Homo sapiens: one gene and its partners. The protein of the gene in region 1 purifies or fractionates together with the protein of each later gene. This does not show direct contact. Each region holds a gene or a part of one and is shown in the gene's direction. Other genes may lie near its edges. The genes, in order: FAM219A, OBSL1, WDFY1 and FBXO10.

Evidence for each region.
Region 2: the proteins of FAM219A (region 1) and OBSL1 purify together in Homo sapiens (affinity purification with mass spectrometry; 4 studies listed by BioGRID and IntAct, with this or other methods). This does not show direct contact.
Region 3: the proteins of FAM219A (region 1) and WDFY1 purify together in Homo sapiens (affinity purification with mass spectrometry; 3 studies listed by BioGRID and IntAct, with this or other methods). This does not show direct contact.
Region 4: the proteins of FAM219A (region 1) and FBXO10 purify together in Homo sapiens (affinity purification with mass spectrometry; 3 studies listed by BioGRID and IntAct, with this or other methods). This does not show direct contact.

What each region holds. Positions count from the first base shown.
Region 1 is NC_000009.12:34,455,554-34,463,197, reverse strand, and holds the start of FAM219A (protein FAM219A), read left to right. Parts: upstream 1-4,627; 5' UTR 4,628-4,934; coding exon 4,935-4,994; intron 4,995-7,644. Other genes in the region: DNAI1 (dynein axonemal intermediate chain 1), read right to left, coding at 4,145-4,192.
Region 2 is NC_000002.12:219,561,536-219,568,575, reverse strand, and holds part of OBSL1 (obscurin-like protein 1 isoform 1 precursor), read left to right. Parts: intron 1-251; coding exon 252-521; intron 522-606; coding exon 607-858; intron 859-1,000; coding exon 1,001-1,303; intron 1,304-1,449; coding exon 1,450-1,746; intron 1,747-3,061; coding exon 3,062-3,334; intron 3,335-4,948; coding exon 4,949-5,221; intron 5,222-5,901; coding exon 5,902-6,174; intron 6,175-6,567; coding exon of another isoform or gene 6,568-6,692; exon of another isoform or gene 6,693-6,854; intron 6,855-7,040. UniProt on the Homo sapiens protein: Core component of the 3M complex, a complex required to regulate microtubule dynamics and genome integrity. It is unclear how the 3M complex regulates microtubules, it could act by controlling the level of a microtubule stabilizer.
Region 3 is NC_000002.12:223,942,314-223,950,014, reverse strand, and holds the start of WDFY1 (WD repeat and FYVE domain-containing protein 1), read left to right. Parts: upstream 1-4,679; 5' UTR 4,680-4,730; coding exon 4,731-4,867; intron 4,868-5,459; exon of another isoform or gene 5,460-5,536; intron 5,537-5,607; exon of another isoform or gene 5,608-6,791; intron 6,792-7,701. UniProt on the Homo sapiens protein: Positively regulates TLR3- and TLR4-mediated signaling pathways by bridging the interaction between TLR3 or TLR4 and TICAM1.
Region 4 is NC_000009.12:37,531,354-37,538,393, reverse strand, and holds part of FBXO10 (F-box only protein 10), read left to right. Parts: intron 1-450; coding exon 451-1,284; intron 1,285-6,335; coding exon 6,336-6,485; intron 6,486-7,040. UniProt on the Homo sapiens protein: Substrate-recognition component of the SCF (SKP1-CUL1-F-box protein)-type E3 ubiquitin ligase complex. Mediates the ubiquitination and degradation of BCL2, an antiapoptotic protein, thereby playing a role in apoptosis by controlling the stability of BCL2.

The sequences.
Region 1 (7,644 bases):
CTGGAATGCCTCCCCTATCCCCATCCCTTCACCCCACACCCTACCCCCGGGTATTGCATAGCTCTTTCATTTCCTTCAGGTCTTTGCTCATATGCCACCTCTGTAACACCTTCCCTGTCCATCCTATTTAAATGATAATCTTGTGATTCCCTGAACTTCTTAGTCTACTTCTCTGATTTAGTTTTCTTCTTGGCATCTATCACCATCTAATATACTATATATTTTACAAATTTATTTATTGCCACTTTACCTCCAACTAAAAAATAAGCTCCATGAGAGCAGGGATTTTTGTTTGTTTTGTTTCTTGCTATATCACCAATACCTAGAACAGTACCTAACACAGAGTGGGTACGATAAATAATTACTGCATGAATATTTACACATCAATATTTTTATCTCTTAGTCTCCAAAACCCATTTCTTAAGGCATGGATACTTGTGGTTCAAATTTGAATCATTCATAGCCCTACTGCCAAAGCAGATACAAACATGTACCTGGAAAACCATACTTACACAGTTACATTTCCTTGTTATAATTCCCCACAAGTCTCCCCATCCCAGCTTCACCCCTTCCCATCCTTCGAACACATTCAGATGATAATTTCCAAGAACAACTTAGGGCATTCAGAATTCATATTGAACTCATTTTCTTAGAATTTAATATATTCCAGGTATTGTGCTAGGTAGAGGGGAATCAACAATGAACAAGACAGACATGATCCTTACCATAACATAGTTTATAGTCTAGAGGGGATATCACCCTATCCTGCCTCCAGAAAGGGGACTTAATCCTTTGTAGAAGAATATGAGGGCCAAGCTTAGACCCGAAATATGAATAGGATATGAAGGAAAGATTTGGGGTAGGGTGGAGTAGACTAGTAGACACAGACAGAAAAGATTTCAAAAGCTTAGAGGAGATAAACAGTGTGAATATCACTTTCCAGGAAGTGAGGGCAGTTCAGTTTGCTGGGATTGTGGAATTTTCATAGAGAAATGGTGAGGTTTGAAGTAGGATGGGTAGCAAAGGCAAGACCATGCAGGGTGGCAAAGGCCATACCAAGCAAATTGGACTTTTGGGACTTTATCCTGAAAGCAACAAGGAACCATTAAAAGGCGACTAGTGGAGTGATATGAACAAATGGAATTTAAACTCCTCTCTATCCTCTAACAAACCCAACCCTGATCTTCCCTCACCCCTGGCAACCCAGTCCTACCTACCTCCTCCCTGAAGCCTTTCTGCTGCTCTAACCTGCAGGCTTCTCTCCCCTTCATCCCCAGGGATCCCATCCTCCTTTATCTTTTTCTGCCTGTGTTCTGTCTCCCCCATTGAACTGAATTCCCAGAGGACAGGGACAACTTCTCAAACATCTCTAGGACATCCCACACCTGATTAGCACTGACTCAAATTGGTCTTCACTGAGGCAAGAAAATGGTAAATACAACCTAGCACAACCTAACCTTTTCTCACACCCCACACGCCAATATTTACTCTGAACTAAAACAACCCTTCCCTCCATGGGGCAGTGCTGATGTGTACGGGGCCAGTTGACCCAGTTTTTTCTGCTTTCTGTCTGCTGTCACCTCTCCCTGCTCTCAGTGTAACTAGTCTCTAATGTCTCCCTAATGGGCTAGAGAAACCCATCCCCAAGCTTGTTCAAACTGCAAGTTGCTAGAAAAGACAAATTGAATCTGTAATGACAGAAAGCAGATCTGTGGTTACCTAGGCAGGCCAGGGGTGGGGCATAGGAGGTGGGATGAGGCACAGGGAACTTCTTGGGATAGAGAAAGTATCCTATATCTTGAGTGTGGTAGTGGTTTATACGTGTGTAAATTTGTTAAAATTTGTCAACACGTACAACTAAAATGGTACATTCTATTATATGTAAACCAAACCTCAATAATGTTTATTTTAAAAGCAAACTGCTGGGGCACGGGGGCTCACCCCTGTAATCCCAGCACTTTGGGAGGCCTAGGCCTGTGGATCACCTGAGGTCAGGAGTCCGAGACCAGCCTGACCAATATGGTGAAACCCCGTCTCTACTAAAAATACAAAAATTGGCTGGGTGCGGTGGCCCACACCTGTAATCCCAGCACTTTGGGAGGCCGAGGCGGGCAGATCACGAGGTCAGGAGATCCAAGACCATCGTGGCTAACACAGTGAAACCCTGTCTCTACCAAAAATACAAAAAAATTAGCTGGGCGTGGTGGCAGGCGCCTATAGTCCCAGCTCCTTGGGAGGCTGAGGCAGGAGAATGACGTGAACCCAGGAGGCGGAGCTTGCAGTGAGCCAAGATCACACCACTGCACTCCAGCCTGGGCGACAGAGCAAGACTCCGTCTCAAAAATAAAATAAAATAAAATAATAAAAAAAAATTAGCCAGGCATGGTGGTGCATGCCTGTAATCCCAGCTACTTGGGAGGCTGAGGCAGGTCCCTTGAATCGGGGAGGTGGAGGTTGCAGTGAACCTAGATTGCGCCACTGCACTCCACCCTGGGTGACAAGAGTGAAACTCCGTCTCAAAAATAAAAAATACAAAAATAAAAAATAAATAAAAGCAAACTGCCTGTAAATATAGGGTCAGGAGGCTCAAACACAGTACATGAACTTCAACGTAAAGCCCAACCCCAACATAAAATTAGGGCATGTTCATATGGGACTAGCAGCTTCCCCAAGGCTGCAGAGACCTAAGAAAGTCAGGTCCATCTGCTACAGAAGCCCAGGTAAAAGAGGCAGAGGAGCAAAGGCTAACATGGAGGTGGCCAGACCAAAATATGCAAAGTCATAAGTAGCATGGAGATTGGCTCTCTAAACCTCAATGTACCTAGACTTGAGTGGGGTAAATCTGGAATAAATATATAGAAGTCCTGCTTTCCAGAGCTAGAAACTACACATTAGCCTGAGTGGTAATTCATAAAGGGTTTGGAAAAAGTTCCTGAAGGACTGAGTTGCTTCACCACAGAAGACTCCTTGGGAAACTGGGACTGCCTTGCCTTCCGTGGTGATGCTGAGGAAGAAAGCAGAACTCTGTGCTCAGTGGGTTAAGTGGGGGATGACTCGGGTTTCCTGTGAGAAGGGATGACATCTGTCCAGGTGGTAATAAGAGCATAATGTTCACATAGCTGAATGAATCATAGGAGTGGACCAGGGGCTCGCAGGGAAGAGAGAGATATGAGGCTCTAGAAATAGTTGGGGCAGAGTGTTTGGGTTGTGCACTGTGGGGGTGAGGACAGGGATGAGAAAAGGGCCTCTCTCCTCTTCCTCTTTGCCTGCCCTTTCTCTCCTCATAAATCTCCCAGCACAGAAAATAAAATCACACTCCTGCACATAGCCTGTCCTGTATTCTGTTTAGTTCTCTTGCACACCCTCTGTGGGCTCCCAAACAGCAAGAGCTGTGTTCCCACCTAGCCTGGAGCTAGGCACACAGCAAAGGGTTGGATAAAGAATGCCTTTGAGGCTGGGCGCCGTGGCTCACGCCTGTAATCCCAGCACTTCGGAAGGTCAAGGTAGGAGGATCGCTTGAGCTCAGGAGTTAGAGACGGGCCTGGGCAACATGGGGAAACCCCGTCTCTACCAAAAACACAAAATTTAGCCGGGCGTGGTGGCCTATGCCTTTGGTTCCAGCTATTCGTCAGGCTGAAGTGGGAGAATCGCTTGCACCCAGGAGGCAGAGGTTACAGAGAGCTGAGATGGCGCCACTGCATTCTAGCCTGGGCTACAGGGCGAGCCTCTGTCTCAAAAAAAAAAAAAGAAAGAAAGAAAGAAAAAGAAAAAGAAAAATTCCTTTGGGACAAGAATGTGAGAACAAGGAGGAAGGGACTCGTGGGAATGGGGATGGGGAAGTTAAGGAGAATAGACTGGTCAGAATGAGTCCATGGGGTAAAGTGAAGTGAAGAGATGGGAATGGTGGATAAAAGGAGAGAGGTAAGAAACGGTGGATTGGGGTAGTATGGGAGAGGAGGCCGGGATTAGTGGGAAAGAGTAGGACAGAGTCAGAGGTCAGTGGGAGCACTTACCAGAGGTCACGGGGGTGAGAAGGCTGGGGTCAACAGAGAAAAGATCAAGGATCAGTAGGAGAGGTATGATTAGTGGTCACTGGCGACGACGAAGGTCAGAGGTCATCAGAAGGAAGGTGTGCGTACGTTACCTGCTTATGAGGCTGTTTATGGGGAGCCTTCGCAGAAGCAGGAATCATCTCAACCCCTGGAGAGCCTACAAAACGCTCCCTCGTCTGAAGACAAAAAGTTTGTCCGTCTCCTTGACCACACACAAGAAATCTGGACTCTCTTCCACTTCAGTTACCAGTCGCAACGGTTCTTTAGGGACAGCCGTCGTTGTGGGTCCCCGTGCCCTTGCAGGATAGAATCCAACTCCCTGACGCGGTTACCCAGCAACCGACCAGCAGCCAAGGCGCAGGCGCTTCGGCGCGCCCAGCCGGCCCGGAAAGGAGGCGGGGTTGGGCGCGCGGCGAGCGAGTCTCCACTAAGCCCCGCCCCCTCAGGAATCACAGCTGGGCGGCCGCGCGCATTCGGAACTCCCGCATGTGGGTGGGGCTGGGGTCCCCAGGCACCGCCTCCTCATGAATAATGCAAGATCCGGGCGGTGTCCCGGACCCGGAAGTGGAGTTGCCGAGTCACCGCAGTGGCTGAGCTGCTGACAGGAGGCGGCAGCGGAGTAGGAGGCGAGGCAAGACCTGCGGCTCGGCCCGGCCACAGCCGCGGTAGTGCTAGGCAAGCCCACGGAGTCACGCCGGCCTCAGCCAGTCTGCGAACCTCTCGCCCCCGCCCACCCCTGCATCCGCCCGGCCCCTGCCCGCCCGAGTGGTCCGGGGAGGCCTAGTCTGCACCACCCGCCGGGCTCCTGGGGCCGCCGCCCCGCGCGGTCCTGTCGGCGTCCGCGGCCGCGCCCGGCCCCTGGCCCGCTCGCCCGCCGGCACCATGATGGAGGAGATCGACCGGTTCCAGGTGCCCACCGCGCACTCGGAGATGCAGCCGCTGGTGAGGGGGCGGGCGGCGGGCAGGCCAAGGCCGGAGGGGGCGTCGCTTGAGGGGGAGGGAGGGAATCAGGCCGGGGGGATCGTGCGGAGGGGCGCCATCGGATGGGGCAAAGAGATCCCTGAAAACGTATTGCCGGGGGACGGGGACTTGCAGGACAAGAAAACCGTGGGAGAATATGCTGGATGAGAGCAAAGGGACCTGTAAGGGCGGAGGGCACCGTCGGTGGAAGCAGGGCACCGTCGGATGGAACGGAGGGGGCACAAAGGTGCACACCGCTAGTGGAGGCCCATAGCAGGGACTGGCGAGGGAACTGCCATGGGGCACCGCCGGCGGCAGGCCCAGGGGTCTGGGATGGGAGGTGGGGAGGCGTTTAGTCCTAGAGGCCTGTGATGCTTAGGGCGGGGGAGCCGTCAGGCTAAGAGAGATTGGGAATCAGCTTTTAGAAGAGGAGGGGCTTGCCCGCCTGTCCGCTGGATATACGGACAGGAACGCTGGGCCGGGGCGAGGGACCCAGTGGGGGAAGGTGGTTGGTGCAGAACCTGGGAATTCCGTTCTCCGGTGGGGAGCGCAGGCAGACCAGGCTGGGGGCATCTAAACCGGGAAGGAGAGTGCGCGGCGACCAGATGGGGAATCGGGGTGCAGATGAGAGTGCTCGGGAACCGACGGGAGAGGAAGTGGGGTCGCGCTGGAGCTGCCTGTGCGCACTGGTTGGGAAGAGCCCCCATCATCTTAGGCCTACGTGCCTGAAGTCCTTGCTGGGCGCGGATCCTGCCGCCTGTCCGCGGTCCCGGAGTCAGGGAGGAATGATGTCATCGCTGCTGGCGCGGAGGGAATGGAAGGGGGAGGGCAACTCGGGTGCACCGAGGCTAGGCCTAAGGGAGACCATGCTTGCTGGCCACCGCCCAGGGGGCTCCCTGACCTCGCTTGTCTGTCAGGCAACCGGGTGGGAGACGTGGAGGCCTAGCCAGCTCGTATAGTGAGGGGGGAAGAGAGGGAATGTCTAGGCTGTGTTCGCTTTATCCCCCTGGAGCCTGAGCTGGAATTGGAAGGAGGCAAGGTGGGCTACAAATCCGAAAGTGTGGATGCCCCATTTCTCTGAGCTGTGCTGGCTGGAGCAGAGCTGAGTTCTCCAAGTTCTGAAGTTCTGCTTCTGTGTTAGGCAGGGTGGCCAGAAACAGGTCTACCCTTGGGCCTATAACCCCCTGGCTGACAGATGTGCTTTGTAGCTTCCTGGGCGAGTAACCTACCCATTACAGCAGCCAAGATGGGCCTCGGCAGGGACCCATCACCACCTTTTTGTCACACCTTTTGAGGGATGGTAGAGAGAATCATTAGTGGCCACTTAGCAGGAGACAAAGGCTTTTTCCCCCTTTCATGACTGCTTAGACAGTTCTAAGAGCCAAAACAAAGAAGTTTTACAGAAGCATACAATATTAAACCGGAGAGAGGTGTTGCAGGACTTTTTCCTAGCCTCATGCCATCATTGGATTATTTGGGAGCCAGAAAATCCTGGAGAGAAGTCCATCCCATGAACTTAAAGAAGGACTTTGGGCTGGCTGAAGATAATTTTCCTTTCTGAGTTCTCTTTCTAGCTAACCTGGCTTGTCAAACGAGATTGCCCTTCCAGTTCTAAGCATCTAATCAAGAATCAAAATAGAGGGTGGATGAAGGAAGAGGAGGTTCAAGTGTGTCAGGAAAAGGAAGCAATGAGTTGTTTCTTGTCACCCATCTGGGGTTCTCAAAAAGGAAGGAAATAGCTGTTCAAGGAAAGGGGAGAAGAAATAGAGCCACCAGGCTCTCAGTTGTCCTTGGTGCTTCTGTTATTGCCTGAAATTCTGAATAGTGGTTTGGCTGGGTAGAGAACTCTTGAGCTGCTTCCGGTCTGTGTGGCCCTGGAGTTGGAGAAGCATCTGTGGCAAGGAGGCACTTAGAAAAGCTCTGACTGCCTTCAGACCCCTTTAACTGCTAAAGTCACCCTTGTGCAAGAGAATACTTTTTTTTCTTTTTTTTTGAGACAGGGTCCCTCTCTGTCACCCAGGCTAGAGTGCAGTGGCACGATCTTGGCCCAATGCAACCTCCACCTCCTGGATTCAAGCGATTCTCCTACCTCAGCCTCCCAAGTAGCTGGGATTATAGGCCCCTGCCACCACGCATGGCTAATTTTTGTATTTTTAGTAGAGACAGGGTTTCGCCATGTTGGCCAGGCTGGTCTTGAATGCCTGACCTCAAGTGGTCTGCCTGCCTCGGCCTCCCAAAATGCTAGGATTACAAGAGTGAGCTGCTATGCCCGGCCTGAGAATACTTTATTGAGTTTGAGTGAGAGCCTTATGGAAATAGCAATATAGTCATCCCTCATTTGAGGGTCATAGACATTGCCCCGCTTCCTGACCTCTGTCCCCAGGTTGTATTCCAGAGGCACCTCAAAACCCTTTAAATACCCTGTGTATTGTTGAGACCAGCAGAATCTTGTGTGATGTTTCTTCAGGAGTCTTCATTTTGGGGCATAAAGAATTAAGATAGTCCAGCCTGGGAAACACAGTGAGACTCCATCTCTACAAAAATATTTAAAATTAGCTCAGCATGGTGCTGCATGCCTGTAGTACCAGCTACTCAGGAGGCCGAGGCAGGAGGATTGCTTGAGCCCAGGAGG
Region 2 (7,040 bases), on another chromosome or scaffold:
GTAAGGAGACTGAGGCCCAGAAGCATTGAAATGGACTTGCTTAAGGTGATGTGGCTAGTGTCAGGGCTGGATGAGAACTCAGGTCATCTTAGGAACCACCACTTCCCTTCTGGTAGTTTTCTGTGATTCCACAGTGCCCGCTGGCTCTGCATGAAGAGCACACAGCATGAGCTAATGCGCTTCTAGGTATCCTACTCCTAGTCTGGGCCTTCTCCAGAGCCCTCTCTTGTCTCTCTCTCCCCTCTCCACAGAGCCCCGCCTCCGGTTCACACGGCCCCTGCAGGACGTGGAGGGCCGTGAGCACGGGATTGCCGTGCTGGAATGTAAAGTACCCAACTCCCGCATCCCCACGGCCTGGTTCCGTGAGGACCAGCGGCTGCTGCCCTGCCGCAAGTACGAGCAGATCGAAGAGGGCACTGTCCGGCGCCTCATCATCCACAGGCTGAAGGCAGACGATGATGGTATCTACCTGTGCGAGATGCGGGGCCGGGTGCGCACCGTGGCCAACGTCACAGTCAAAGGTCAGCTGGCCCGTGGGGAAGAGGCTGAGGCGGAGGCAGGCAGGTGCTCAGATTCCAGGTTGATGGATTCCTGTCCGCATCTCAGGGCCCATCCTGAAGCGCCTGCCCCGGAAGCTCGACGTCCTGGAAGGAGAGAATGCTGTGCTGCTAGTGGAAACTCTAGAGGCCGGGGTCGAGGGACGCTGGAGCCGTGATGGGGAGGAGCTGCCGGTCATCTGCCAGAGCAGCTCAGGCCACATGCATGCCCTGGTCCTTCCAGGGGTCACCCGAGAGGATGCTGGCGAGGTCACCTTTAGCCTGGGCAACTCCCGTACCACTACGCTTCTCAGAGTAAAATGTGAGGGCAGGAAGGCCTCTGGACAGGCGAGGCAGGGCAGGAGGTTGGCCAGATGCCGGAGCTGGGTTGGTGAAGTAGATTTAAGGTGGAAGGGCTGTGGAGGCCCAAGCAAGGCCGGAACACATCCCTGCCTTGGTCTCAGGTGTCAAGCACAGTCCCCCAGGACCCCCCATATTGGCAGAGATGTTCAAGGGCCACAAGAACACGGTCCTGTTGACCTGGAAGCCTCCCGAGCCAGCTCCCGAGACCCCATTCATCTACCGGCTGGAGCGGCAGGAAGTGGGCTCTGAAGACTGGATTCAGTGCTTCAGCATCGAGAAAGCCGGAGCCGTGGAGGTGCCGGGCGACTGTGTGCCCTCCGAGGGTGACTACCGCTTCCGCATCTGCACAGTCAGCGGACATGGCCGTAGTCCCCACGTGGTGTTCCACGGTTCTGCTCACCTTGGTGAGTTGGTCCTGCCAGACCCACCCATCACTTCTCCTCCCTTCCCCAGCCCTCAGTGCTGGTCCTCTCACAGGCTTGCCATCCGCCAGCCTCTGCCCTCTGCCACACCTTCTAGTTCTGACAGCTGCACTCTGTCCCTGCCTCAGTGCCCACAGCTCGCCTGGTGGCAGGTCTGGAGGATGTGCAGGTATACGACGGGGAAGATGCCGTCTTCTCCCTCGATCTCTCCACCATCATCCAGGGTACCTGGTTCCTTAATGGGGAAGAGCTCAAGAGTAACGAGCCGGAGGGCCAGGTGGAACCTGGGGCCCTGCGGTACCGTATAGAGCAGAAGGGTCTGCAGCACAGACTCATCCTGCATGCCGTCAAGCACCAGGACAGCGGTGCCCTGGTCGGCTTCAGCTGCCCCGGCGTGCAGGACTCAGCTGCCCTCACAATCCAAGGTTGGTGCCAGTGGGGACCTGAGTGGGCAGAAAGGGTCAAGACACAGAAGTCCTGTTGGCAAAACGAGGCAGATGCTGTTTTTATTTCTTGTATCTGGGCCAGGAGAGCAAGGAGCATCCATGATGGGCTGAGGTTGAGGGCTCAGAGGTCCGGAAGGCCAATTTCAACCCACATGCAACATCCAGGGCACCCCTTGTTATCTTGATATATGTCAGCATCATATCCCAATTCTCTGGAGTGCTTTGTGGTTTACAGAATCCTGTCAGATTTGTCATCTCATTTGAAAGACACAGACCCTGGCTGCTAGTCCCTGCCTGCCTCCTGCCATGTTGTCTAATTGTTGACATTGTCATCGCAACTTTCTACGTGCCAGGCGCAGTCCTAATCACCTTACATACATTAACACAATCTTCTCAATGGCCCTATAAGATAGGTTCTTTTTTTTTTTTTGAGATAGAGTCTCACTCTGTCGCCCAGGCTGGAGTGCAATGGCGCGATCTCGGCTCACTGCAACCTCCACCTTGTGGGTTCAAGAGATTCTCCTGCCTCAGCCTCCCGAGTAGCTGGGACTACAGACATGCATCACCATGCCCGGCTTGTTTTTGTATTTTAGTAGAGATGGGGCTTCGCCATGTTGGCCAGGCTTATCTCAAACTTAAGATAGGTTCTTTTGACATTCCCATTTTATAGCTGGGGAAACAGGCAGATACGTTAAGTGACTTGCTCAAAGTACGGAGCTAATGAGCACAGGTGCTGAATTATGAACCCAGGCAGTCGGGCTCCTGATCACACTGTGCCACCTGTTGAAAGGGGGAAGGAGGGGAATGAGGCATCCCTGAGGAGAACAGCTGGAGGTGGGGCGCTCAAAGTTCAAGGATCACGCTAGCATTTGCCATGTCACCATTGCTGGAGTTTGTAAGACCAATCAAGGAATCTGTCGGCACCCATGCACGGGGTCTTGGGGTGATTCACTGTCAGCATCGCAGGCAGAGGGGCCAGGTGAGACCTGACCAGCAACCAGAGCAGCATTTCCAAAATGGGATCCCAGTTCACTGACATCAGAACCACCTGGAGGGCTGGTTTATAATGCAGATTTCCTGGCCCCTGCGTGCTTGGGAATCCAAGAATTCTGCATTTTTAGCAGGCTCCCTAGGAATTCTTATGCACAGCCAAAGCACTGCTCTTAAGGGTTGGTGTGGAAGCCTAAGCCTATTTTTAAAAACCCCAACAACAGCAGTTGTTCCCTCTGATGCATCCGACACTGAGCCCATGCACCGGAGGGAGGGGTGCTTATCTGTACTTCTCCCCACACAGAGAGCCCGGTGCACATCCTGAGCCCCCAGGACAGGGTGTCGTTGACCTTCACAACCTCAGAGCGGGTGGTGCTGACTTGTGAGCTCTCAAGGGTGGACTTCCCGGCAACCTGGTACAAGGATGGGCAGAAGGTGGAGGAGAGCGAGTTGCTGGTGGTGAAGATGGATGGGCGCAAACACCGTCTGATCCTGCCTGAGGCCAAAGTCCAGGACAGTGGCGAGTTTGAGTGCAGGACAGAAGGGGTCTCGGCCTTCTTCGGCGTCACTGTCCAAGGTCAGGAAGCATGCCAGCCTGGGCTCCTCCAGCCAAGGCTGATTGTGGGGCCGCATAAGCCATGCCCTCTGGTCTGCTGCCTACTTGGGGGAGTCCTTTACAGGGAGAGTCCAGTGGCCCAGGGGACATGTTTCAGATAACTCTGCACTTGCTTTTTTGTTTCTTGTTTTTTTTGGAGACAGGCTCTCACTCTGTTGCCCTGGCTGGAGGGCAGTGGCGTGATCTCAGCTCATTGCAACCTCCGCCTCCTGGGTTAAAGCGATTCTCTCACCTCAGCCTCCCAAGTAGCTGGGACTACAGGTGCGCGCCACCACGCCCAGCTAATTTTTTTATTATTTGGTAGAGACGGTTTCACTATGTTGGTTAGGTCACCCCTGACCTCAAATGATCTGCCCGCCTCAGCCTTCTAAAATGCTGGGATTATAGGTATGAGCCACCATGCCTGGCTTTCTTTCTTTCTTTCTTTTTTTAAGATGAGGGTCTCACTGTTGCCCAGGCTGGCCTTGAACTCCTGTGCTCAAACGATCCTCCTTCCTCAGCCTCCTGAGCAGCTGGGATTATAGGTGTGTGCCACGCACAGCGTGCCTTTGCCTCCTAAACCCCTGATACACTAACACTGTCTCGCTGTCCACATAGCCTCTGCTGGGTTGGGTGGGGGAACAAAATGCAATTAAGGGGAGGAGAGATGGGAGCAAACACTTTTTGGACACTTACTCTGAGCCAAGCACTATGCTAAGTATTTTCAATATACACTCTTTCATTTAATCTTCACAACTCGATGAGGGGCAATATATCTCCAGTTCACAGGCAAAGAAATGGAGGCTGTAAGAGGTTATGTGACCTCCGTCACACCATAGCTTGGCGACACACACAGGATTGTTCTGTTCCTGCTGCCTCAGATAGAGTCAAACAGAAGCATCGAGTGCAGTCACCCCGTGGTTCTCACAAGGCAGTCCGTAGGCTGGCTGCTTTAGGAAGCTCCTGGAAGCTGGTTATAAATCCCTGGACTGTCCAGAGCCCCAGTATCCAGGGTGGAGCCTGAAGATCCTTTCCTAACAAGTGCAGACTCTCTGAGAGAGCAGCTTGGGAACCATGGATCCCACTCATCTCACTGAGTGGGAGTCCTGTTTTCCACACTGTGGCCCCTGCCTGAATGCACCCAGTGACAGGGAACCCACTACCTGGAGAGTGGCTGTCTCACTGTTGCCACTTGTTGGATCATCCTTCACCTCCTGCCCACCCTGGGGTCTTTCTCGTAATAGAGGCAGTAAGCATGGCCCTGATGTGACTTGTGACAGTGACCTCCCTTCAGCCTAGACAAATGGTGGCTGCCACTCTGTGAACTCTCTGTGCTTCCTTCTCTCTATGTACTCACCCCGCCACCTCTGATCCTTTGGGGACCTACAGAGCACTCTGGTGCCACATGATCTCCTGCCATGCCTCACCTGCCATGCCCTCAGCATTCCTTGTCATTGTCCCTGAGTCCCTACACAGCAGGACCTTAGCCCTCCTCCAGTGTCCTCTTGTGCAGAAACAGTGTCTCCTGGCCACACAGCTAGTTTGGACTCATTGTGCGGGGGTGTCTGTGCAATGCCATCTCTGCTTCCCACCCAGATCCTCCCGTGCACATCGTGGACCCCCGAGAACATGTGTTCGTGCATGCCATAACTTCCGAGTGTGTCATGCTGGCCTGTGAGGTGGACCGAGAGGACGCCCCTGTGCGTTGGTACAAGGACGGGCAGGAGGTGGAGGAGAGTGACTTCGTGGTGCTGGAGAATGAGGGGCCCCATCGCCGCCTGGTGCTGCCCGCCACCCAGCCCTCAGACGGGGGCGAGTTTCAGTGCGTCGCTGGAGATGAGTGTGCCTACTTCACTGTCACCATCACAGGTGGGGGGCCAGGTGGGCCTCGGAGGCACAGGGGAAGGTGCCCCTGCTCCCACTGGAACAGCTGCCACACCTTCACTCCCAGGCCACTGTTCCCCGCCCCTACTGCCCTCCCCCTGGCAGATCGGACCTCCTCCCTTTCTCCTCAAGCTATGGTCTAGTCACATTCAGGAAACGTGTTATCATAAGCACATTGGTCTTGGCTAAGGAAGCCTGGCTTTCTCTATTCTCCTGAAAACCTGTACCAAGGGAAATCTCTGGGGACAGTGAGTCTATTGCAGGGTAGGGCAGAGTCTAGGGCTGGTGGTCTCAGGCACTAGGGGGGCAAAAACATCTTGGAGGAGGAGACCCCCAGCTCCTCCCCCCAACCCTCCTCTCATCAGTTCCACCCTTCATACCGTCCCTGTCCCAACCCAGAGAATGTGGAGCGTTTCTACAGCCGAGGCTGACCCCGTGGTCCCCTCTGTGCAGCTCCTGCGCAGCAGAAAGTCTGCTGTGCTTTTGTGACAGCTGTATTCGTGTGTCTCTAGCTGTGAGTAACTGTCAGCTGCTGTGAGATTTGGTCTCAGGAAGGTCCCTCTTCAACACATGGCCTACTTTCCAGGGGTAGGGAACACAACGGGGTCAGGGAGGACGGCAGGGCACACCCCTCATGCCCGGCAGTGGCTGTCCCTGTCCTCCAGACGTCTCCTCGTGGATCGTGTATCCCAGCGGCAAGGTGTATGTGGCAGCCGTGCGCCTGGAGCGTGTGGTGCTGACCTGTGAGCTATGCCGGCCCTGGGCAGAGGTGCGCTGGACCAAGGATGGAGAGGAGGTGGTGGAGAGCCCCGCGCTGCTCCTGCAGAAGGAAGACACTGTCCGCCGCCTGGTGCTGCCCGCTGTCCAGCTCGAGGACTCCGGCGAGTACTTGTGTGAAATTGACGATGAGTCGGCCTCCTTCACTGTCACCGTCACAGGTGTGGGCCCAGCCCAGCTCCCCGGGGTCACAGAGACAGCCCTGAGCCCTGGAGGAGCTGGCCACATAGCCCCAGCTAGCACCCCGGGGAGGAGGGAGGTGTGGGCTGCAGGTGCATGTGCCAGGGTTCTTGCTGAGATGAGCCCAGGGCCCCTATTCAAGGAAACAAGCCCCTCCCCGGTGCCCAAGGCCAGGCCTAGCTCTGCTCCACAGCTCATTTACTGAGCACTTTCCCTGAATCAGGCACTGGGAGTAGCAGGTGAGTAATGCAAATACGGTCCCTATTCTGAATGAGCTGCCAGGCTAGGTGAGGAGGCAGCTGTTAACCAGGGGTCGCAAACGGGTAGTCCTGGGGCCCTGCGCATTCCACACATGTGCTTTGTTTGGTCTGCAGAGTCTTACCAAAGTCAGGACAGTTCAAATAACAATCCGGAGTTATGCGTCCTCTTGAAAAAGCCGAAGACCCGGCGGCTCTGGTCCCGCTTCCCCCCATGGCGACGAACAGCTGGCACTGAGTAGCAGCTGCCCCCATAGTTTGGGGCCCACATTCCTCTGTCCCACCTCCCTGCCATTGCTTTTTGCCTCTCCCCAGACTGCTTCAGCCGCTAACCTAACCTGGCCCCTGTGGGCATTTGAGTTTGCGACCCCTGTGTTAAACCAATAAACATGCAAATAAATGTACAGTGACACCTGGTGATAAGTACTGTGAGGGCCAAGGGCAGAGGGCTCAAGAGCACAGAGCAGGAGGGTCAGGGAGGCCTGGGAGAAAGTCACCCTTCCACACACGGGAGCCAGCAGCACGCAGACACGGCCGCTTCCCTCTAGGACTGCACAGCCTGGCAGGAAAGCCAGACGCATTCCAGGATC
Region 3 (7,701 bases), on another chromosome or scaffold:
CAGCAGTACACTGAAGTCTGGGTGACAGAGTAGTAACACTCTGTCTCAAGAAAAAAAAAAAAAAGGTAAACCAAGGCACAATAATATTTTAAAGGGCTTATTTGTGTAAACAGCAATTCATGAATCGGACAGCTCTAAACCGGAAGTGTTTCCAGGGCTCTGTTGGAGAAGCATAAGGGTCAAACTTGGAAGAGTGAATGCAGAAATAATGCAAAGAAAATAATTGATTACAGTTATAAAGTGGCTTTATTTGGTCTATCCTGTGGGAAAATCCCTAGTTATTTAATTGTAAGTCTGTTGACTGCTTCTGAATGGTTGAGCTTAAGTTTTGTTTTTCTTTAATACAGGCATTTACAAGAAATAGTTCAAGTTAAGTTTCACTTATGTTTGCAAATCAAGCAAGGTTAAGATCACTTAGGAGGACTGACTGGCTTTGTCTCTTCGGGGAGTCTTCAGCCCTGGTTTCCATTTTAATTTAGTTTAACAGGCGAATCCCTGATTAAAATTTTTGAACAAGTATTTGTAGAGGGCCTTTCTCTCACTTAGTTTTGACCATCCTGCTGCCTTAAGATCAAGCATAAACTTGGCTCCTGAACTCTACCACCACCCAGTGAGCATCTGCTGACCCTGCAGAGGGTGGCACAGCAGGTTCCATCACTGTGCATTTAACTCCCAGAGTAATGGCTGCAGTCCAGACCTCTCTACTATTCAGTAGCATATACAAAACTCCTATATTCAGGCTGGTCATGGTGGCTCACGCCTGTAATCCCAGCACCTTGGGAGGCTGAGGCAGGTGGATCACCTGAGGTCAGGAGTTCGAAACCAGCCTGGCCAACATGGCAAAACCCCGTCTCTACTAAAAATACAAAAATTAGTCAGGCATAGTGGCACACGCCTGTAATCCCGGCTGCTGGGGAGGCTGAGACAGGATAATTGCTTCAACCAAGGAGGTGGAGGTTGCAGTGAGCCAAGATCGCACCACTGCACTCCAGCCTGGGCAACAGAGCAAGACTCCATCTCAAAAAAAAAACAAAAAAAACAAAAACAAACAAACAAACAAACAAAAACCTCCTGTATTCAACTGCCTACTCAGCCCCTTCACTTGGAGACCTAATACTCGTCTCAAGCTTCCTATGTCCAAAACTGAATTCTCCTTCTTCCCTTCCAAACCTGCTCCTCCTACATTTTCCACAGATCAGTAACTGGCAGCTCCACTTTTCCAGTTGCTCAGCCCACAAATCTTGGTATCATTCTTAACTATCTCATATTCAATATTCAACAAATTTCACTGGTACTACCTTCTACATAAGTCTAGAATCTGATGTCCTCTCACCACCAGCACCCTTAGAAAGCCACATCATTTCTCAATTACCCTGTTAATTTCTCAAATAACTTCCTGACTGACACCTTGCTTCTATTCTTGCCTTTTAAAATTGAAGGCAGATTAGCCCAGGCGCAGTGGCTCATGCCTATAATAATCCCAGCACTTTGGGAGGCCAAAGTGGGTGGATCACCTGGGGTTGGGAGTTCGAAACCAGCTTGGCCAACATGGTGACACCCTCTCTACTAAAAGTACAAAAATTAGCTGGGTGTGGTGGCACGTGCCTGTAGTCCCAGCTACTTGAGAAGCTGAGGCACGAGAATCACTTGAACCCAGGAGGTGGAGGTTGCAGTGAGCCAGGATCGCACCACTGCACTCCAGCCTGGACGACAGAGTGAGACTTCGTCTCGAAAAATAAATGAATACAAATTTAAAAACTTGAAGGCAGATTAAACCAGCCTTCTGTTCGAAACTCTCCAATGGCTTCCTATCTCATTTGAAGTAAAAACCAAAGCCCTTATCAATGGTCTCTGGGCTCAACATGGTCTGTCTGGTGACCTGTCTGTGCTGTTTTTCTCTGAGCACTCCCTCACTCACTCTGCTCCAGCCTCACGGGGTGCCTGGCTGTCTCTACAAAACCCCTGGCATGTGCTCACCTCAATGCCTTAACACGTGCTCTTTTCTTTTCCAGAAAAGTATTTGGCCCACATTTCCACATGGCTTACTCCCTCCTCTCCTTCTTGGCTCAAAATGTAACTTTACAATGAGGCTTTTACTTGTCTCAGGTTGCATTCTCCAGCAGCAGATACGGTGATAGAGGTTGGCTCAGAGGGTGTTTATTAGGAATCAATGCCTGTGAAGGGAGGGGGAGGTACCAGGATTAGGCAGGAGAAGTCAGCTGCAGTACACGCCTTACAAAGCCTTGTCCAATCTAGGAGAGAGTTCTAGAGCAAGTGTTGCTCATCGGTCTGTCTTGATGGTCAGGCCTTTATCCTCCTATCTTGTTCAGTTACTGAATGTGGGCTTCCCTGTGAAGGGAACAACTGAGACCCAGTGGTTCTCAGCAGCTGGGGCAGTCCCTGAAGGAGCTGAAGGCTAGAGGCTCTCTGCTGACCACTGTTCTTCCCTGAAAGCAGATCTGTGCAGTGTATTCCTGAATCTATCACACCATCTATTTAAAATCGCAACATCCCCTAGAGTCCCTATCACCCTTCCCTGCTTTATTTTCTCCATAGCATTTAATAGCATTGAACATCTTCTAATATATTATATAATTTAGTTTACTATCTGTTTCCTTCACTGGGATGTAAGTTCTAACAGCAGAGGGATTTTTGTCTCTCTTGAGCACTGCTGCATTTAGAATGGCACCTGGCTCACAGCAGGCACTTGGGAGATGTTGGTTGATTAAACAAAGTTGTTCAGTAGCGTGTCTAGTCATTACACTGTACAGCCTCACAAAAACCATGTCTTATTAATCTCATCAGCAACAGCATATAGTAAGTGTGCGATATATGTCTGTTGAATATAGGAATAAATAAATTCATGAATGTTTGTTAATAACTTCATCATGAGAAAGTATTAGTACAATGGTGGCTCCTGCCCGTAATCCCAGCATTTTGGGAGGCTGAGGTGGGCAGATGATTTGAGGGCAGAAGTTTGAGACCAGCCTGGTCAACATGGTGAAACCCTGTCTCTAGTAAAAATACAAAATTAGCCAGGCATGGTGGTAGGTGCTTGTAATCCCAGCTACTCGGGAAGCTGAGACAGGTGAATCCCTTTAACCTGGGAGGCGGAGGTTGCCGTAAACCGAGATCGCACCACTGCACTCCAGCCTGGGTGACGGAGTGAGTTCGTCTCAAAAAACTAAAACAAAACAAAACAAAAACAAAAAGAAAGTTCTAGTAAATCACTGTACATAGAAGTACCATCTGATTCACATCCATAATTTAAAGTTTTTATTAGCTACCTTAAAAAAATAAGCAGGTCATATTAATTTTAATAGTATCTAACTCAATATATCCAAAATAGTATCATTTCAACATGTAATCATTGTAACAATTATTGATGAACTATATTACATCTTTTTTGTTTTGTGCTAAGTCTATAAAATCTTGTAGTATTTTGCACTTGTACTACATCTCAGTTTGGACAAGCCACATTTCAAGTGCTCTATAGTCATGTGGATAGTACGGTTCTAATGCAATTCTGCAATTCAGGTGTCAGAATAATATAGTGGGGCAGAAGTTTGGAGTCATTGACTTCCTGAGTCCAAATTTTGGCTCTTGAACTTACTGGTTGTCAATGACCTCTAGCCAAAAACCACCAGGAACAAATGGGGTTGATTGCTTGTTGGAGGGAGAAGACACACCATTGGGAATGGTGAGGTGTCTGGGTAAAGGGATGTTCGGACAGTTTTATTATAGGATTTGTGTTTGTGTTAGGTGACCTGGGAGAGCTTAAGGAAGAGAGGCTCTCCTGTGGACTGGATGTTGTCAGGAAATGCGTATAATTCTAAGGTTGCATATCTTAATAAATCTTATCTAAATGGAGGAAGACTAGATAGCGGTTAACATTATAATTAATAAAGAAATAAGAGTCACTCATATTAGCCAGGATAGGGGGATGTTTGGTAATTTCTGTGGCTTGTACATCGCTCATATTTTGGCCGTGTTTAGATGTGATTATGGAGTGGCCTCGTCTGATGTTTATGTTCCACAGGAAGCAAACACTTCCTAGCAACACCAAAGCTCAGCTGATAGTACCAGGCAGCTCCTGGAGATCAAGGGCTGCTTTTCTCCCTCTCATAGCTGTGCAACCTTAAGGTAGTGATCAAACTTCTCTGGTTGTTTTCTCATCTCTAAAATGGGAATACAAGAGCATCTATTTCATCTCTTAAAATTATCAGTATTAAATGAGATGCAAAGACACTGAGTTAATGCCTGGTATATGGTCACCACTCAGTGCTATCTATTGTAGTTCAAAGATTCTAAGATGCACTATATTTTTTCACATTTTAACATTTCTGAAAGTGTGTGCCTTTCAAACAATGGCTTCTTCAAATGGATGAAATGTAGTATTGTAATTTCTGAAATCTCTGGTTTGGGGGACAATTCCTTGTCCCCTCCAGGTGCTCAATTTATTCCTGGGTGAATGGCTTTACTTTTAAACCTTCCTTACTTTCCCCATTTCTCCGCAGGCGCCCCGTGGCATCCTCTCCCAGCCACAGACTTTCAGCTTGCGCGGCATCCCCAGGCAATACGGGCGGTGCGGCGGCAGCACTCGGGGGCTTACGGCGGCGCGGCGCCCAAGAGGCCCCAGCAGCCGAAGGGAAACCGGCGCGTCCCCCGCCCGCCCAGGCGTCAGCTGATGGGCTGCCTGCCGAGGAGGCCGCAGCAGTCGCCGCGCGAACATGGCGGCCGAAATCCACTCCAGGCCGCAGAGCAGCCGCCCGGTGCTGCTGAGCAAGATCGAGGGGCACCAGGACGCCGTCACGGCCGCGCTGCTCATCCCCAAGGAGGACGGCGTGATCACGGCCAGCGAGGACAGGTAGGGCCCGGGCGCAGCCGGGGCGGCCCGAACTCCGCGACGACGGGGTGTGGGGGCGGTGGGGTCCGCGGCCCCGGTCCTTCCTGCGTGAGGGGGCTCCCCCGGCAGCACGGCCCCACCCCCACTCTGCGCCCCTTAGCTCCGCCGGGTTCCCGGTTCCCTCCCGCCGGTCCTCCAGCCTCGACTTGCACCTTTCCAGCCTGGGACCCCGGTCTCGCCGCGCCCCTCCAGCCCGGATCCCCTGTCCCACCGCGCCCCTCCAGCCCGGGAACTCCGTCTCACCGCGCCGCCCAAGCCCGGGACCCTTGTTCCAACGTGTCTTTCCAGCCCAGGACCCCTGTTCCAGTGCGCCCTACCGCGCCCCTCCCAGCCCACCTCGCCCCTCCTGCTCAGGACCCCTGTTCCAATGCTCCCCAACGCGCCCCTCCAGTCCGGGACCCTTGTCCCACTGCGCCCGTCCATCCCGGGAGCTCCGTCCCACCGCGCCCCTCTAGCCCGGATCTTCTGTCCCACTGCGCCCCTCCAGCCCGGGAACTCTGTCCCACCGCGCCACTCAAGCCCGGGACCCCGGTTCCAGTGCGCCCCAACGCACCTCTCCAGCCCAGGACCTCTGTCTCACCGCGCCCCTCCAGCGCGGGAACTCTGTCTCACCGCGCTGCTCAAGCCGGGGACCCCTGTTCCAGTGCGCACCAACGCGCCCCTCCCAGCCCACCGCGCTCCTCCAACCAGGGAACCCCGACCTGCGGTGTCGCACTAGCCTGGGACCTTCGTCCCGGTCTCTCTCCCTGGCGGGGTTTAGCCTGGTACTCGGAAGGTGTTTCTTGGCCCTCCCGGGTCAGTTCCAAATCGTCTCCTCTGGAAGCGTGGAGGACCGGCGGCTGGTCACTGCGGACCCTGGTGCCCGGGGCTTGCTTCTTTGCGAGGAACTCCAGCCGCCTTCGCTCTCTTCCTCCCCCTGTACTCAGGGATTTCACGCCACGCCAGGCCTCTAGATCAGTTATTTTTGCCACGGCTGCTAGAATCACCTGAACTCTTATTTACTAAATAGGTTTTTGTGAAAGTGACTCATTTTTAAAAATATTTGGATGCATTTATTTTAAAAGGAAATCTTATTTATTAGGAAAACTAACATTACTCACCAGACAGAGTAAACTAATAACTAAAACATGTTAATTGGCATGCACACAGAGTCCTCTCTTGCACTGTGACATCTTGCATTGGACGCCCACCATGCTTTTGGGAAACACTGATTGGGTCCAGTTTTCTCATTTCTCCTAAGAGGAAGCCGAGGCTGGTGGAGGTGTAGCTTGCTGCTAAGTTACAGAGATACTGGTGAAGCCGGAAATGCAATCCAGAACTCCCACCAGCTCTGGGCCTGAGTGATTGGATTGGAACAGTATTTATGATTCGACTTTAAACTTTAGCGTCTTTCAAATCCTAAAGGTTTACAATGTCAGTAGCTTTCCGGTGGGAATTTGAAGGAAATGACTGATGTTTATTGAATGAAACTGTGTTTCCTTGATGCAATGAGCCGTCTTAAATAGGGATAGTCCACAAGTCCAAAAGCTTTCTGGAGGATGGAAGGTACTGCTATTCTCTTAAAGCTGAAGGCGTGGTCTCTAGCCTTTTGTAATTATACCTTTTGAAGTGACATTGACCCTATCCTGAATGGGAAGAAAAAGCCTGAAGCCCCCAACTCCTGTTGGTCCTTTGGATTTTGCTTTTGAGTGAGCTTGTGCCTTTTTCCTCAATTAGATAATGAGCTGATTGTGAGCAGGCAGTGGCCTCTCCCTGCTGGTTCACCTGTAGCTGACTTCCAACAAGGAGGGGAGTGATTGGCAGGACCTGGCTGTGGGTCTGTAAAGCAGAAAGGAGTGAGAGAGATCGAGTGCATGAGACCTGGGGAGAAGGTGGGGACCTGAAAAAGGCAAGGACAGAATAATGACTTTTTTTTTTTTTTTTTAAGATGGAGGCTTGCTCTGTCACCCAGGCTGGATGGAGTGCAGTGGCATCATCTTGGCTCACTGCAACCTCCGCCTCCCAGGTTCAAGCGATTCTCCTGCCTCAACCTCCTGAGTAGCTGGGACTATAGGCGCCTGCCACCACGCCCAGCTAATTTTTCTATTTTTAGTAGAGACAGGGTTTCACCATGTTGGTCAGGATGGTCTCGATCTCCTGACCTCGTGATCCACCCGCCTTGGCCTCCCGAAGTGTTGGGATTACAAGCATGATCCACTGGTGTCCGGCCAGAATAATGACTCTTGCATGATGTGAACGTAGATGCAGACAACACTCTTTAAAAGTTAGCCTTTGGGCCGGGCGCGGTGGCTCACGCCTGTAATCCCAGCACTTTGGGAGGCCGAGGCGGGTGGATCATGAGGTCAGGAGATCGAGACCATCCTGGCTAACAAGGTGAAACCCCGTCTCTACTAAAAATACAAAAAATTAGCCGGGCGCGGTGGCGGGCGCCTGTAGTCCCAGCTACTGGGGAGGCTGAGGCAGGAGAATGGCGTGAACCCGGGAAGCGGAGCTTGCAGTGAGCCGAGATTGCGCCACTGCAGTCCGCAGTCCGGCCTGGGCGACAGAGCGAGACTCCGTCTCAAAAAAAAAAAAAAAAAAAGTTAGCCTTTGGCCAGGCGCAGTGGCTCATGCCTGTAATCCCAGCACTTTGGGAGGCCGAGGCGGGTGGATAACAAGGTCAGGAGGTCGAGACCATCCTGGCTAACACGGCGAAACCCAGTCTCTACTAAAAATTCAAAAATTAGCCAGGTGTGGTGGCAGGCGCCTGTAGTCCCAGCTACTCGGGAAGCTGAGGCAGGAGAATGGCGTGAACC
Region 4 (7,040 bases), 3.1 Mb from region 1:
CCTGGCAATGGCAGTATACCTTGTCCCCTCTCTTTAGAGACATATTTTGCTGTGCACCACGTGCATCAGTTGCCACACAGTCAGAACTCTTTGCCAGCACATGCGGCTAGGCCTCTCTCACTGCCTGTCCTAGCCCTGGCACGTGATTGAGACTTGAGGTTTTAGGAGGAGTCATGCTGCAGTGTGAACTTTTCTGCCATCATCTACTTGTCTCCCTTCCTTTGAGATTAGAAGGATGGAGGTGCGGGCAGCTCCAGTTTCCCTCCCTCTCTGATGCAGAGCAGCTCCCCAGTTCCTTTTGGGGACAGCTGACATCCAGACCCCAGTGGGGAGGGGAAGATGATCAGCAGAACAAATGGCCTTTCCATGTTCTACCCTCCTTAAAGGGCAGCTAGAGTCCAAAACCAATCTCATCCCTCTTACAGCCGTTTTCTTCTTTTCATTCCCCAGACAACATCAGGTCACGTCCAGTTTGACAACTGCAACTTTGAGAACGGGCACATCCAGGTCCATGGCCCGGGTACTTGCCAAGTGAAGTTCTGTACCTTCAAAAACACCCATATCTTCCTGCACAACGTGCCCCTGTGTGTCCTGGAAAACTGTGAATTTGTGGGCAGTGAAAACAACTCTGTGACTGTTGAGGGTCACCCATCTGCAGATAAGAACTGGGCCTACAAGTATCTACTAGGGCTTATCAAGTCCTCACCCACTTTTCTCCCCACAGAGGACTCTGACTTTTTAATGTCCCTGGACCTAGAGAGCCGGGACCAGGCCTGGAGCCCAAAGACCTGTGACATTGTTATCGAGGGCAGCCAGAGCCCTACCAGCCCAGCCTCTAGCTCCCCAAAGCCAGGCTCCAAGGCTGGCTCACAGGAGGCAGAGGTGGGTAGTGATGGTGAAAGGGTGGCCCAGACCCCGGACAGCAGCGATGGAGGCCTGAGTCCCAGCGGTGAGGATGAAGATGAGGACCAGCTGATGTACAGACTATCCTACCAAGTGCAGGGCCCACGCCCTGTATTGGGGGGCTCATTTCTGGGCCCACCTCTACCAGGAGCATCCATTCAGCTGCCCAGCTGCCTAGTGCTGAACTCACTGCAGCAGGAGCTGCAGAAGGATAAGGAGGCCATGGCACTGGCCAACTCCGTGCAGGGCTGCCTCATCCGCAAGTGCCTCTTCCGGGACGGGAAGGGAGGCGTCTTCGTCTGCTCCCACGGCAGAGCCAAGATGGAAGGAAACATCTTCCGGAACCTGACTTACGCAGTGCGGTGTATACATAATAGCAAGGTGCTGTCATGACTTTAGATTGGTCAGGGGGCTCCTGTGGCTATATGTAGGAAGGGTTTGATGGGGCTATTTTGCATTTTAAAAATAATTTTCTTTAAACTTATTCACGCACGCTTGACGTCATGCCCATCATCTGATTTGGAAAGGACAGAAACGCTTTTTCTCATTTCCCAGAAAGAGAGGCCCAGAGAGAGAACGTGGCTTACTCAGGGTCACATAGCAAGTTAGGCAGAATTGAGACTAGAAACTCGGGTCTCCTGCCTCTTTTCACTATGTCATGCTGCTGCTCACATATCTCACCATGTCGGAGTAGGAGAAACAAAGCCTGGATAAGAGAAAATTCAGGGAGATATGATTACTACCTTCACTCCAAACTGGAGTAGGGTTGTTGAGGAAACGTCTGTGCTGGGTACAATGAGAAGAAGGTCCAGGGAAAATTGGACACGTGATAAGAAGGGGTGGAGAGTGAGGGTGTCCCAACAGCAGAAACATCCTACGCCAGAGCCTGGGTGTGAGGTTGAATTCAACCATGCGGTGGGGCTAGGTTGAAGGATGAAGCTGGGGGTGAGCAAAAGCTACCTTACCCAGACCTGGAATCCCCCTTGAGACATTTGGGCCTTATGCTAAGAACAGTCCTTCTAGCCACTGCGACAATCAACACCTTCTATGTGCTGGGACTTAGGGCACCACAGGACAATCTGCAAATCCTGTAAATGGTTGATGACAGGAAGGCCTTCTGAAGGGAAAGACAGCCCATGCAGAAGAAAGCATGGCATAGCACCTAGATTCGAGTCTCACCTCTCCACTAACTCACTATGAACATGACCTTCACTTTCGTAAAATGAAAATAAGCATCCCTATTTTTCTTCTCTCACTGGCTATTGGAAGGTCCCATGCCGGAAGTATTCAGTAAACTAAAGAACATTGTACAAAGGTCACTCATGAGTGTTGCAGGCTTCTAAAATGGTTAATAGCAATCACATTTTAATTAATTTAAATTTAATTGTGTTTTACCCAGCCCACTTCCAAAGAGGATTTCAGGTGATGTTACTTTGAAAGCATAATGCAAGACTCCTGTACACATACATAAAAGAAAATGGCCAAATAAAAAGGGAAAGGTAATAGCTTTGCTGTCGTGACTACCACGATGAAAGGATCTGGCTCAAGCCCTCAAGGAGGGCATTCTTCCTTGCATAGTTATTGAGAATATGGCTTTCTAGTTAAAGTCTGGCTCTGCCCCTTAAGTCGGCAGGGTGAAGACGCGAGGCAAAGGAGGTGTGTGTGAAGGCCCAGAAGTAAGGGGAGACACACCCTTTCACCCTTTCAAGCAAGGCCTTGATCCTTGCTCCCCCACAGAAGGCTGTCACCTGGCTCTGTCCTCTAGAACATCCCAGGAGGGTAAAGGCTGGCAGGAGGAGCCTGGTTGCTTGAGGCTCCAAGAAGAAAAGTGTCAGCCGGGTGCTGTGGCTCAAGCCTGTAATCCTAGCACTTTGGGAGGCTGAGGCGGGCAGATTGCCTGAGCTCAGGAGTTCGAGACCAGCCTGGGCAACACGGTGAAACCCCGTCTCTACTAAAATAAAATAAAAAAAAAATAGCCAGGCATGGCAGCGGGCACTTGTAGTCCCAGCTACTCGGGAGGCTGAGGCAGGAGAATTGCTTGAACCCGGGAGGTGGAGGTTGCAAGTGAAAGCCAAGATTGCGCCACTGCATTCCAGCCTGGGTGACAGAGCAAGACTCCGTCTCCAAAAAAAAAATAAAAAAAAAGAAGTGTCACCGACTGTGATTTTCTTCTTTATGTGTCATAAATTTTAGTTGGAAGTCAGATATCTCATGTAGGACAGTGGGGACTGAGCTCTGTAGTATTTAGTTTGGAAATGGGCACACCTCTTCTTTTGCCTGGCTCTTAGGAGGTCGATCTAGTTAGGAGCTGAGCCCGTTTGAATTATGGTGATGATAGGATTATCCTCAGCGTCCCGTAGGCTTCAGCTCTCTCCAGCATTACCTCGTGCTAGTTTTCTCCGCTTCAGATCTTCCTTTGTGCCTGCTGCTCAGAGGCGATCTCCGCTGCTCTCGCCCTCCCTCAGCAGTAGACTGCCATTATTTGTCACCCTACGTGATGGCAGGGTTTCTCTCTTGTCCTGGGTCATCCTTAGTCTAGGTAGGTGCTGTGTCTGTGGTCTTGAGAGCAGGACTTTTTCAGTGACCCTGGCTCTACCCCCAGCACTAGGGGACCTCTGATGATCTGGGCCTAAGTCACTTTCCTCCCAACACCCCCAGAGATAAGAGTGTTTTCCCGCTGTTTCTCTGTGCATACGGTTTGTTTTGTAAGAGAGTTAGGGGGAAAGAACACAGGAGAGGGGCTTAATGCCTCTCTCACTTTTGTCCCCAGCCTGCGTCAGGAGGGTGCTGTCTCCAGTCTCTCATCTGCCCCCAGTTTTCTCCATGAACACCTAGTGAAGGCCACAGAGAAGTGAACAGGTGCAGCTACTCCCAGAGTTTCTGCACTCACACTAATTCACAGCTGGTCTTTAACAGTGCATTGAAAATGTTAGCTGAGTTCTTACTGGCTTGTATGACACATGCAGCCCTGCATTCAGCAGGGAAGTGCTCAGGCCTCGTCTCCTTGGAGGCGCCTGTCTTTCTTTTTTTGAGACGGAGTCTCACTCTTTCACCCAGGCCGGACTGCAGTGGCACGATCTGGGCTCACTGCACGCTCCGAAAGGCACCTGTCTTTTTGTAGCATTCAGGCTAGCCGGTTGTCCAGCAGCCTCAGCTCTGATGGGTTCCACCAGAAAGTCCATGTTTGTGTATATTCTTTCTACTTTCTCCATCCTAAGCAGAAGCTGAAACCTTACCATTTATACTCTTGTTCTACTTTAGTCTTCACAGAATTTTGTCCTAATGCAATATATTATTAGTAGTACACAATTTATAATAATATATTTTATTATTAATCTATAATTGTTTAAGACAGCATAGATAAACATTCCAGATTTTTTATATATTATCATGCTTTGGTATCCGTGGGGGCTTGGTTCCAGGATACTAAAATCCACAGATGCTCAAATCCCTTATATAAAATGTTATAGTATTTGCACCTAACCTGCACACATCCTCCCACACTTCAGTCATCTCTAGATTACTTATAATACCCAATACGATGCAAATGCTATGTAAATAGCTCTTCTACTGGGTTTTTTTGTTTGTTGGTTGTGTTTTTTTTGTTTTTTTTTTTTTGAGACGGAGTCTCCACTGTTTAGCCCAGGCTGGAGTGCAAAGATGTGATCTCAGCTCACTGCAACCTCTGCCTCCTGGGTTCAAGCGATTCTCCTGCCCCAGCCTCCCAAGTAGCTGAAACTACAGGCATGAGCCACCACGCCCAGCTAATTTGTTGTATTTTTAGTAGAGATGGGGTTTCACCATGTTGGCCAGGCTGGTCTCAAACTCCTGACCTCAGGTGATCCGCCCGCCTCAGCCTCCCAAAGTGCTGGGATTACAGGCATGAGCCAACACGTCCAGCCTATACTGTTGTTGTTTTTTTTAATTCAATTTTATTTTATTTTTGAGATAAGGTCTCACTCTGTCGCCCAGGCTGGAATACAGTGGCACAATCTCGGCTCACTGCAACCTCTGCCTCCCTGATTCAAGAGATTCTCCTGCCTTAGCCTCCTGAGTAGCTGGGACTACAGGCATCTGCCACCATGCCTGGCTAGTTTTTGTATTTTTAGTAGAAACGAGGCTTCACCGTGTTGGCCAGGCTGGTCTCAAACTCCTGACCTCAAGTGATCCGCCCACCTCGGCCTCCCAAAGTGCTGAGATTACAGACGTGAGCCACCACACCTGGCCTGTTTTTCAATTTTATTATTTATTATTTTTAATAATGTATATTCAATCCACAGTTGGTTGAATCCATGGATGCAGAACCCACAGACATGGGGGAGACAACTGTACTTATTAAACATAAAAAGAAAATGTAATTGGAAATATATCCCTTTATTAGCAGGTTGCTGGTTATGGGAACTTGTTTGAAGGAGGCTTTGTTATACCAATATCTCTAATCATCCCTTCATTTGGAGTCTCAGTAGTTTTCCACCCCAGGGTGATACACCATGAAAGATTTAGGATGTGCAAGAACAGGCCTTTGTTTTATAAAGTGGAAGGGAAGGTGGGAGAGGAGAACCTGTGTGGTACCTTACTGTCCGTGCCGTCTCAGACAGGTGGATTTTAGTGAAGGTGCATTGGAAGTGGTGGACCTGGAACTTTATTTCATTAAAAGTAGCTGCACCCTCGACCCCTGGGGAAATCTTCATGCAAACTTAGTGCATGTAAAGTTTGAAGACCACTCAGTCCCATCTTCCCCTAAGCGTCCTTTCTATCCCATCATCCAGCTATGCTGCTTGCAGGTTCTGAATATAGAGCACAGGGCCAAGCTTTGGTCCAGGTTTTAGTTAAAGGACCAGTGTGGGCCAGGTGTAGTGGTTCATGCCTGTAATGCCAGCAGTTTGGGAGGCCAAGGTGGGAGGATTGCTTGAGCCCAAGAGTTCCAGACCAGCCTGGGCAACATAGTGAGATTCCATCTCTACAAAAAATAGAAAAGTTAACAACAAAATTACTCCAGCCCACATCCATAGTAAAAATAAAAATAAACAAAAATTCAAAAATTAGCCTGTAGCCCCAGCTATTTGGGAGGCTGAGGTGGGAGGATCACGTGAGCCTGGGAGGCGGAGCTTGCAGTAAGCCGAGATCATGCCACTGCACTCCAGCCTGGGCAACAGAGCAAGACCCTGTCTCAAAAAAAAAAAAAAAAAAAAAAAAGAACCAATGTGAGACCGCTAAGGAGCCTGCAGGGCAAAGCCAGGTAGGGCCTGGAGATGGCTGTGTCCTGGGAGCACACAGTGGGAGCGTGGCTGTGCCAGCATTGAGGCGTTTCTCTTGCCTACGGGGTAAACTGCATGGATCAGGTGGTGCGGAAAAGACTCAGGTGTTCCTCCAGTGGTTTCTAAAAAAATATTTGTAACAGGAAAATAAATGGCTTTCTCTTTTCTGCTTAGATCATCATGCTCAGGAACGACATTTACCGCTGCCGAGCGTCAGGCATCTTTCTTCGCTTGGAGGGCGGTGGCTTGATTGCCGGCAACAACATTTACCACAATGCAGAGGCTGGTGTAGACATCCGGAAAAAGTCCAACCCACTCATACTGGTACTTTGTGTTCGTTCCCTATTCAGGGTGACTCTTGGTTTTCAGAAACCATTTGTGAGGATATTTAAATACACGTTGCCCTCTTGTATTTACGTGCTTCCTGTTTGCAGGTGGCTCCTGCTCTGTCCTCTGCGTGTCCTTGTGACTCTGTGTCTCTGTCTGTGTATTAGCAGTGACTTTGGACAAGTCATTTTCTGGTCATCTCCCCGTTAATAAGGAGGAGGACCAGAAAGACAGGGAAACCTCACAGGGCCCTCAGCCCTCATATGCTGTGGTTGGCTTTGAGTTTGATAAGGTTAAAGAGAGTGATGTCTGCCCTAAAGACACTTGGATCCAACAACAAACAAAAACAACAGCAGCGAACCCACCAAGTTAGTTTATTCACTTGTGTAAGAGGACATTTCGGGTATTTAGTTCTGAAGATTGTTTCGTGGTTATTGTGAGGGCATATTGAGTTTGATTTTCTACCCGTGTGAAAACCACTTAAAATCCTAGACTGTGTGGCCAGTGACACGAGAGACCAGCTCCTTTTCTGCTCTGGCTCTTCCTGAGAAG